Linked DNA regions of Homo sapiens. The protein of the gene in region 1 purifies or fractionates together with the protein of each later gene. This does not show direct contact. Each region holds a gene or a part of one and is shown in the gene's direction. Other genes may lie near its edges.

Region 1 (3,500 bases):
TCAGACAAATGTAACAAGATCCCTTTTTGAGCATGAGGGGGCTTGTAGTCTAAAGTCCAGTTGCTGTCCACCCAGTGTATTGAGTGGTGTTGTTCAGATGCCAGAGTCTACAGTAACCAGTACCGTGGGTGACAAGAAAACTGACCAGATGGTTTTCCATTTAGAAACAAACTCCAATTCAGAATCACATGATAAAAGGCAAAGTGACAACATTTTATGTTCAGAAGACTCAGGTTTTGTGCCTGTTGAGAAAACACCTAATTTGGTGAATTCAGTCACTTCTAACAACTGTGCTGATGACATTTTGAAAACTGATGAGTGTAGTAGAACCAGTATTTCAAATTGTGAAAGTGCAGACTCAACATGGCAGTCATCACTTGACACTAATAACAACAGTAAGTATATACTTATGCACCTTTTAGAAAAATTAAAATAGTCACTTTTCTTTAGGGTATTTTAAAGTCTCAAATATACAAACCAGTATAGACAGAAAAAAGGTAAATGATGACAATTATTTCACAGTATCTTGTTTCTGAACCATTCTTAGTGAGGTGGGGGACAGGTATCCACCATATTAAAAGGGTAATTATTGCAAAGAAGGAATCAATCACTTTTCCTTAAGTACAAAATATCAAAAGGTGGTTTATAGCAATTATTTGGTTCATTTCATATACATCTCTTCTTATTTTGAAGTTTTATTAGATTAAGAAGGAGGCTAGTTGAAAGAGTGAGTTTTAAAAATTGTTGGTAACCCTATTTCTTTTTTTTTTTTTTTTTTTTTGAGACGGAGTCTCGCTCTGTCGCTCAGGCTGGAGTGCAGTGGCGCGATCTTGGCTCACTGCAACCCCCACCTCCTGGGTTCGAGTGATTTGCCTGCCTCAGCCTCCTGAGTAGGTGGGATTACAGATGGGCACCACTACGCCCGGCTAATTTTTTTTTTTTTTTTTTTTGTATTTTTAGTAGAAACAGGGTTTCACCATGTTGGTCATGCTGGTCTCGAACTCCTGACCTCGTGATCCACCCGCCTTGGCCTCCCAAAGTGCTGGGATTACAGGCGTGAGCCACTGTGCCCAGCCAACCCTATTTCTTTCTATAGAATTGACCTGTAAATCACATGCTAAGTATGATAGATAATATATTCACACATGTGTATATGTGTGTGTAGAGAAAGAGAAGCACCCCAAATAATAAATGAAGTCCTTGGGTTATAACATCATTAAAATAGCAAAAGTGAATTTCATTTGAAGTAGGGTATTTTGTTAATGAAATAGAAAAAAACTGATTTAATGCTATAAATTTTGTGTTCTTGTCTAGACTACAGAATGGTCATTTAACAAGATGAATTTAAAATTCCTTAAAAATAATAACAGTATCATCTATTTCAAATATGTATAATAGGCTGGGTGTGGTGGCTCATGCCTGTAATTAACAGCACTTTGGGAGGCCGAGGCAGGAGGATCGCTTGAGCCATCCAGGCTAGCCTGGGCAACAGATCCAAGACCCTGTCTCTTAAAGAAAAAAAAAGAAGCCGGGCGCTGTGCCTAACGAATACAATCCCAGCACTTTGGAAGGTTGAGGCAGGTGGATCACCTGAGGTCAGGAGTTCAAGACCAGCCTGGCCAACATGGCGAAACCCCGTCTCTACTAAAAATACAAAAAAAATTAGCCAGGCGTGGTGGTGGGCACCTATTATTATTATCGCAGCTACTTGGGAGACTGAGACAGGAGAATTGCTTGAACCTGGGGGGCGGAAGTTGCACTGAGCCAAGATCGTGCCACTTCACTCTTGCCTGGGCGACAAGAGTGAGACTCCTTCTCAAAATGAAAAAAGAGTACCTTTATATAAAATAACGTAGAACCACTTAAGTCACTATAAATAGAGAATTAAATGCCATAATTTGTTAAGTTTTTGTTCGTATATGTGTATTGAGTTATTAAGTAAGATTAAAGGGACAGAGTATCTGAGACCAGAACCCTACCTAAGATAACTCATTTTTTTTCAAGGTTAGTTTGTGGGTACGTATTTATGCAATTGAATGTTCTAAAAAATGCTGCAGTGTCACATTTTAGTTTTTCCATTTGCTCAGAGGGTCTCTAAATTAGAGAATTCCTATTTCCTTCTCTTTTTTCCTCCTTGAAACAGGGTCTCACTGTGTTGCCCAGGCTAGAGTGCAGTAGTCAAGGTGCTCACTGCCACCTCAACCTCCCAGCCTCAAGCAATCCTCTCACCTCAACCTCCTGAGTAGCTGAGACTACGGGCATGCCCCACCATACCCAGCTAATTTTAAATTTTTTGTGGAGATGAATTTTCACTATGTTGCCCAGGCTGGTCTTGAACTCCTGGCCTTAAGCCACCCTCCCTCCTTAGCCTCCCAGAGTGCTGGGATTACAGACATGAGCCACCACACTGAACCTGTTTTTTTCTTTAAAATATCTTTCTTTCTAATCTTTTGATCTCCTCAAGGCCATTATCAAAAGAAGAGGATGTTTTCAGAAAACGAGGAAAATGTTAAACGCATGAAAACTTCAGAGCAAATTAATGAAAATATTTGTGTAAGTTTGGAAAGGCAAACAGCATTCCTGGAACAGGTAAAATATTGGGGCTTAAATGGAACTTTTACTTTTGATTAGTAAAACATGGTAAAAGTTAATTATCTGGTCCCCACAGTGGCATAATACAGACGACTTTCACTTGCTGCAGAGCTGGTGTGTGAAAGCCAAATTATCAGACAGACTGGGGAGAGATAACTACTTACATTACCAAAACAGCTCTGGTTTCTTGAAAATGGTCTCATGCAGAATAACCTAGGGATCATGTGTAGGTAGAGTCCTGTTGCAAAAAGAGAATGGGCTTTCAGTCAGTATTACACTCATATTTGTCTGTAAGTCAGACACTGCATGACCTTCAGCTTTATTAAAGAATCCAGTCTCTTTTGTACTAGTCATGGGGTTCTTAGATCTGCAGCTCTATCCATTTGTAGATCTCACCACAACCCAGAAGACTCAAACAACCTGGAAGTCCATTGCAAAGTCCCTGTGCATTCAGGTTTACTTGCCCTATTTTCCAAACTTAAACGGATATGGTACATTATCTGACATTTTGCTGTATAGCATCATTAAATACACTTCTTGCTTTCATTGTGGCCTCATTTTATCTCATTGTACTACAGTCTCAGTATGCGTTTGATCAATTGTTAGCTGAAGTGTATGTAGCGTGTTTCAGTTCTAGTAGAATGGTTATACTGAGGACGGGTTTTGATGACCATGTTTTCCTATTTCACTACCACTAGAATGCCACCACTACAAATCATTACCTAGTAGACTAATGTCTTCCAGCTGTAATGGACCGAAATTTCCCCGTCTAAACTACCCTGCAAACTGTTTCAGAAACAGAAACACTACCATTTTTTAAAACAGACCATTACAATTACATAGTTACATATACTATGAATGTGTATTCTTCACCTAATAATAAGGGAAAATAAAGGGAAAGAGTTACG
Region 2 (3,500 bases), on another chromosome or scaffold:
TCCCATGGCACAAAAAGTGGGGCCACAAGCCACTAGCCAAATATTTGCTCATTTCTATGCCACCTGAGATCCCCATCTGACCCCTCACACTGAGCTGAGAGGTCAGATGGGGACCTCAGGTGATACAGAAAGGGCCAGAGGCTCCCCCAGGCAGGGCCCTGGAGGGCATTTCTGGGGGTAGGGGTGGTTTGGGGTAAGGTCCATAGGAAAATGGTCAAACTACTCCAGGGACAGTTTTCCAAGTCCCTGCCGGGCCCAGGTGTAAAGGTGGAGCGGGACCTAGTCATGCGGGGAGATGCCGGCTGAGAGGGAGGGCTGCCCTACGCACCAGAGTGAGAGGCCTTGGAGCTGGAGGTGGGGAGCTGACACTGGAGTCAGTGTGGCTGCTACTCACGATCCCAGTTCTACTTTGGGAAGAGGCTGGTCTCCTGGCCAAGAAGCTGCCCAGAGCTGACTTACTCTGCCTCTCCACCAAGTGACTGGTTTCTTTCCCACCGCTCACCCGCTGGGATTTCCTGAGAGAAAGCGAGCAGGACAGACCGAGCTGACCCAGCAGAGCATCCCAGGGCTCTGCACTCCCCTGGATAATGCAGCCTTGATGCCTCTCTTCATACAGTGGAGGGCGTTTTGGTGGGCGGCTAAGCCCTCTGTGCAGGCAGGGACTGGCGGCAGCCCAGGCTCCATCTCAGGCCCTCGCCCACCAGACCCCACTGGCCTCACCCATGCTGCCACCCTCCCTCTGGCTCTCCCAGGCCCAAGCTGGGAAAACCCGGAGCTCTACTGCTCACCAGGGACCCAGTCCTGCCTACTCTCCCAGGGCCAGGGCCAGCCCTGAGCTCAGGACTCCTGCCTCACTCCCTTTCTCCACCACATGATTCTGCTGGGGAAGCGGAGGGTTTCATTGTCCTCAGTGACCCCTATCTCCACTGTGGGTTTACCTCTGCGCTCAGCCAGGGTGAGTGCAGGACCATTGCCAGGCCATAGGGAGCCTCTGTGGAATTAGAGAAAGGGATCCCCAGTTAGGTGCATTCAGCTCAGCAGGTGCTGGGTTTGGTGAGCAGGGTGGCCTGCTCGTTCCCTTGGCTGAGCATCTTTGTGCAGTGGGCAACCTGCATGGCTGTCCATGGAGGCTCTCAATGAGAGGGAAGCAGGAAAAGAGAGGGACCAGGGGAGATCATTTTAGTCACAGACCAACCTCAGATGGCAGTGAGTAGAGGGCGAATCACAGGGCCAAACCCTTGACTGCTTGACCCAGGTAGTGTGCTCAACTGCAGTTCTGAGAAGACGTCTGTGAGACCAGGAGCAGTCAGAGGGGCTCCCTGGAGAGGGGAGGCCTTGAAGGACAGGAAGCATCTGGGTGAGCAAGAATAAGTGCTCAGCCGGGCACAGTGGCTCACACCTGTAATCCCAGCACTTTGGGAGGCTGAGGCATGAGGATTGCTTGAGCTCAGAAATCCAAGACCAGCCTGGGCGACATGGTGAGGCCCTGTCTCTACTAAAAATACAGAAAAAAAAATGCCAGGCATGGTGGTGCACACCTGTGGTCCCAGCTACTCATGAGGCTGAGGTGGGAGGATCTTTTGAGCCCAGGAGGCTGAGGCTGCAGTAAGCCGAGATCGAGCCACTGCACTCCAGCCTGGGTGACAGAGCAAGACCCTGTCCCTCCAGAAAAAAAAAAAAGAGAATAAGTGATCAGGCCGAGCCGGTCTACTCTGCTTCCCCTGGGAGCTTCCCATGTCCTTTAGTCTTATAACCCCAGAGCTTGGCATGGGGCTGGCACATCACAGGGACACGAGGGCCCCAGAATGACCCTGAGAAGGTGGGACTGGGAAGGCTTGTGTAGGAGGGATCAGAGGGTTGAGGGAGGTAGTGGGTAAAGCCTCAGTGTGAACAGTCTTGAACCCCAGACCCATCTGCACACCCAGGGGGGCCTGACGCAGGCCTGAGCCAGCCTTCATTTGCTCTGCAGGGAAGTGCCCTCCTGCCACACCAGCATACCACCCGGCCTGTACCACGCCTGCCTGGCCTCGCTGTCAGTGAGTCCAACCCAAGTTGAACCTGGCTTGCAAGCTGCTGCCAGCCTGGGCAGTGGGACCTGTGTTCCCCACTGGGGCTGGTGAAGGGGGGCCCTGGAAGATCCTGGGTGGGGGGAGCTATCTGGGAGTTCTCCCAGCTTGGAGGCCCAAACCAGGATGCAAGTCCAACCTTCCAGATGTCTGTCACCCCTTGACCAGTCCCCAAGATGTCACATGAGTGTGCACTGGGCAGGTAGGGGATATCCTGGGGCCTGAGTCCAAGCCCTCAAACTCAGACCCTCAGGGGAGGCCTGGGCACCCCAAGCCCTCCTCTGCACTCTCCTTTCAGATCCTTGTGCTGCTGCTCCTGGCCATGCTGGTGAGGCGCCGCCAGCTCTGGCCTGACTGTGTGCGTGGCAGGCCCGGCCTGCCCAGGTTTGTACCATGGCCTGGGCACCCCCACTCAGGGGACCCAGCTGACAGGGTCCCTCTGGGAGGGTGGGTGATTTGTTAGGTACCTAAAAGGCAGCTCTGGCTTTAATGACATCCCTATCGCCCTCAGCCTGGAGCTTTCCTCACCCCCACCTAGGTCTCCAGGTTTAGTCAGGACCCCCAGAGGAAGGGGGAGGGACTCGCTCAAGCCCGCCTGGGAGAAAGGACTCCAACCCAGACCCTAGGGAAACAAGCCTGACAGGACCCAGCGTCAGAGTGTACCTTCTCAGGCAGCCCTCCATGTGTGGATTGACGTGACCATCCCAATGCCATCTTGACCGTCATCTTCCCTGAGGGTATCACCTGGACCCTAATGCTTGAAGGCAGATTTATGGGGACTGACATCTAGCCCCTATAGCTGGAGCTTTCTTCTCCTATCTCCTTCAGCCCTGTGACTCCAGAGCCTGGACAGGCATGATCCTGAGGAGATGGGGCTGGGCAAGCTAGTGTGCGAGAGACCAAAGGGTTGGGGCAGGTGATGGGTGGCTCCTTGGTGTAGACAGCTTCACATCCCAGACCCAGACTGTGCACCGAGGCAGGTCTTGCTGTGCTGGTTTTGTGGGGAACCAGCCTGGGGTCTCTGGTTGGCCCCAGAAAGAGCTTGCCCTGGCTGGGGCAGTGTTTGAGGGAGAATGAACCTCTCAGAGCATGAATGCAAGCTGCAGTGCAGAAGCTGTGGGTCTGAGTGGCTTGCCCTGAGCCCAGAAGGGTGATGCCTGGGACAGCTATGCCCGCTGTCTGCCCTCTGCCCCGGGTCCACACCCAGCCCAGGGCGGCGGCTGTTGTACAAGGATGTTGTGACTCGCTGAGTTCTCTGAAGGTTTGCCAGCTCAGACAGACCAATTAGTGTGGAGGTGGCTGCTTCCTGGAGCTTCCAGGGTGGGCGGAGGAGCAGTCTTAGGGCTTCTTCCCACTGTATGTGTGTCCCAAGTCCCTTTGGCACGGGGCCCAGAGCTTGGTAGATAAGAGGCACTCCACAAATATCTATGGAAT

What was found. The genes of interacting proteins can lie anywhere in the genome.
Region 2: the proteins of ATF7IP2 (region 1) and STRA6 purify together in Homo sapiens (affinity purification with mass spectrometry; one large-scale study listed by BioGRID and IntAct). This does not show direct contact.

The regions. Positions count from the first base shown.
Region 1 is NC_000016.10:10,431,061-10,434,560, forward strand, and holds part of ATF7IP2 (activating transcription factor 7-interacting protein 2), read left to right. Parts: coding exon 1-395; intron 396-2,453; exon of another isoform or gene 2,454-2,464; coding exon 2,465-2,589; intron 2,590-3,500. UniProt on the Homo sapiens protein: Recruiter that couples transcriptional factors to general transcription apparatus and thereby modulates transcription regulation and chromatin formation. Can both act as an activator or a repressor depending on the context.
Region 2 is NC_000015.10:74,196,288-74,199,787, reverse strand, and holds part of STRA6 (receptor for retinol uptake STRA6), read left to right. Parts: intron 1-1,969; coding exon 1,970-2,036; intron 2,037-2,364; coding exon 2,365-2,450; intron 2,451-3,500. UniProt on the Homo sapiens protein: Functions as a retinol transporter. Accepts all-trans retinol from the extracellular retinol-binding protein RBP4, facilitates retinol transport across the cell membrane, and then transfers retinol to the cytoplasmic retinol-binding protein RBP1.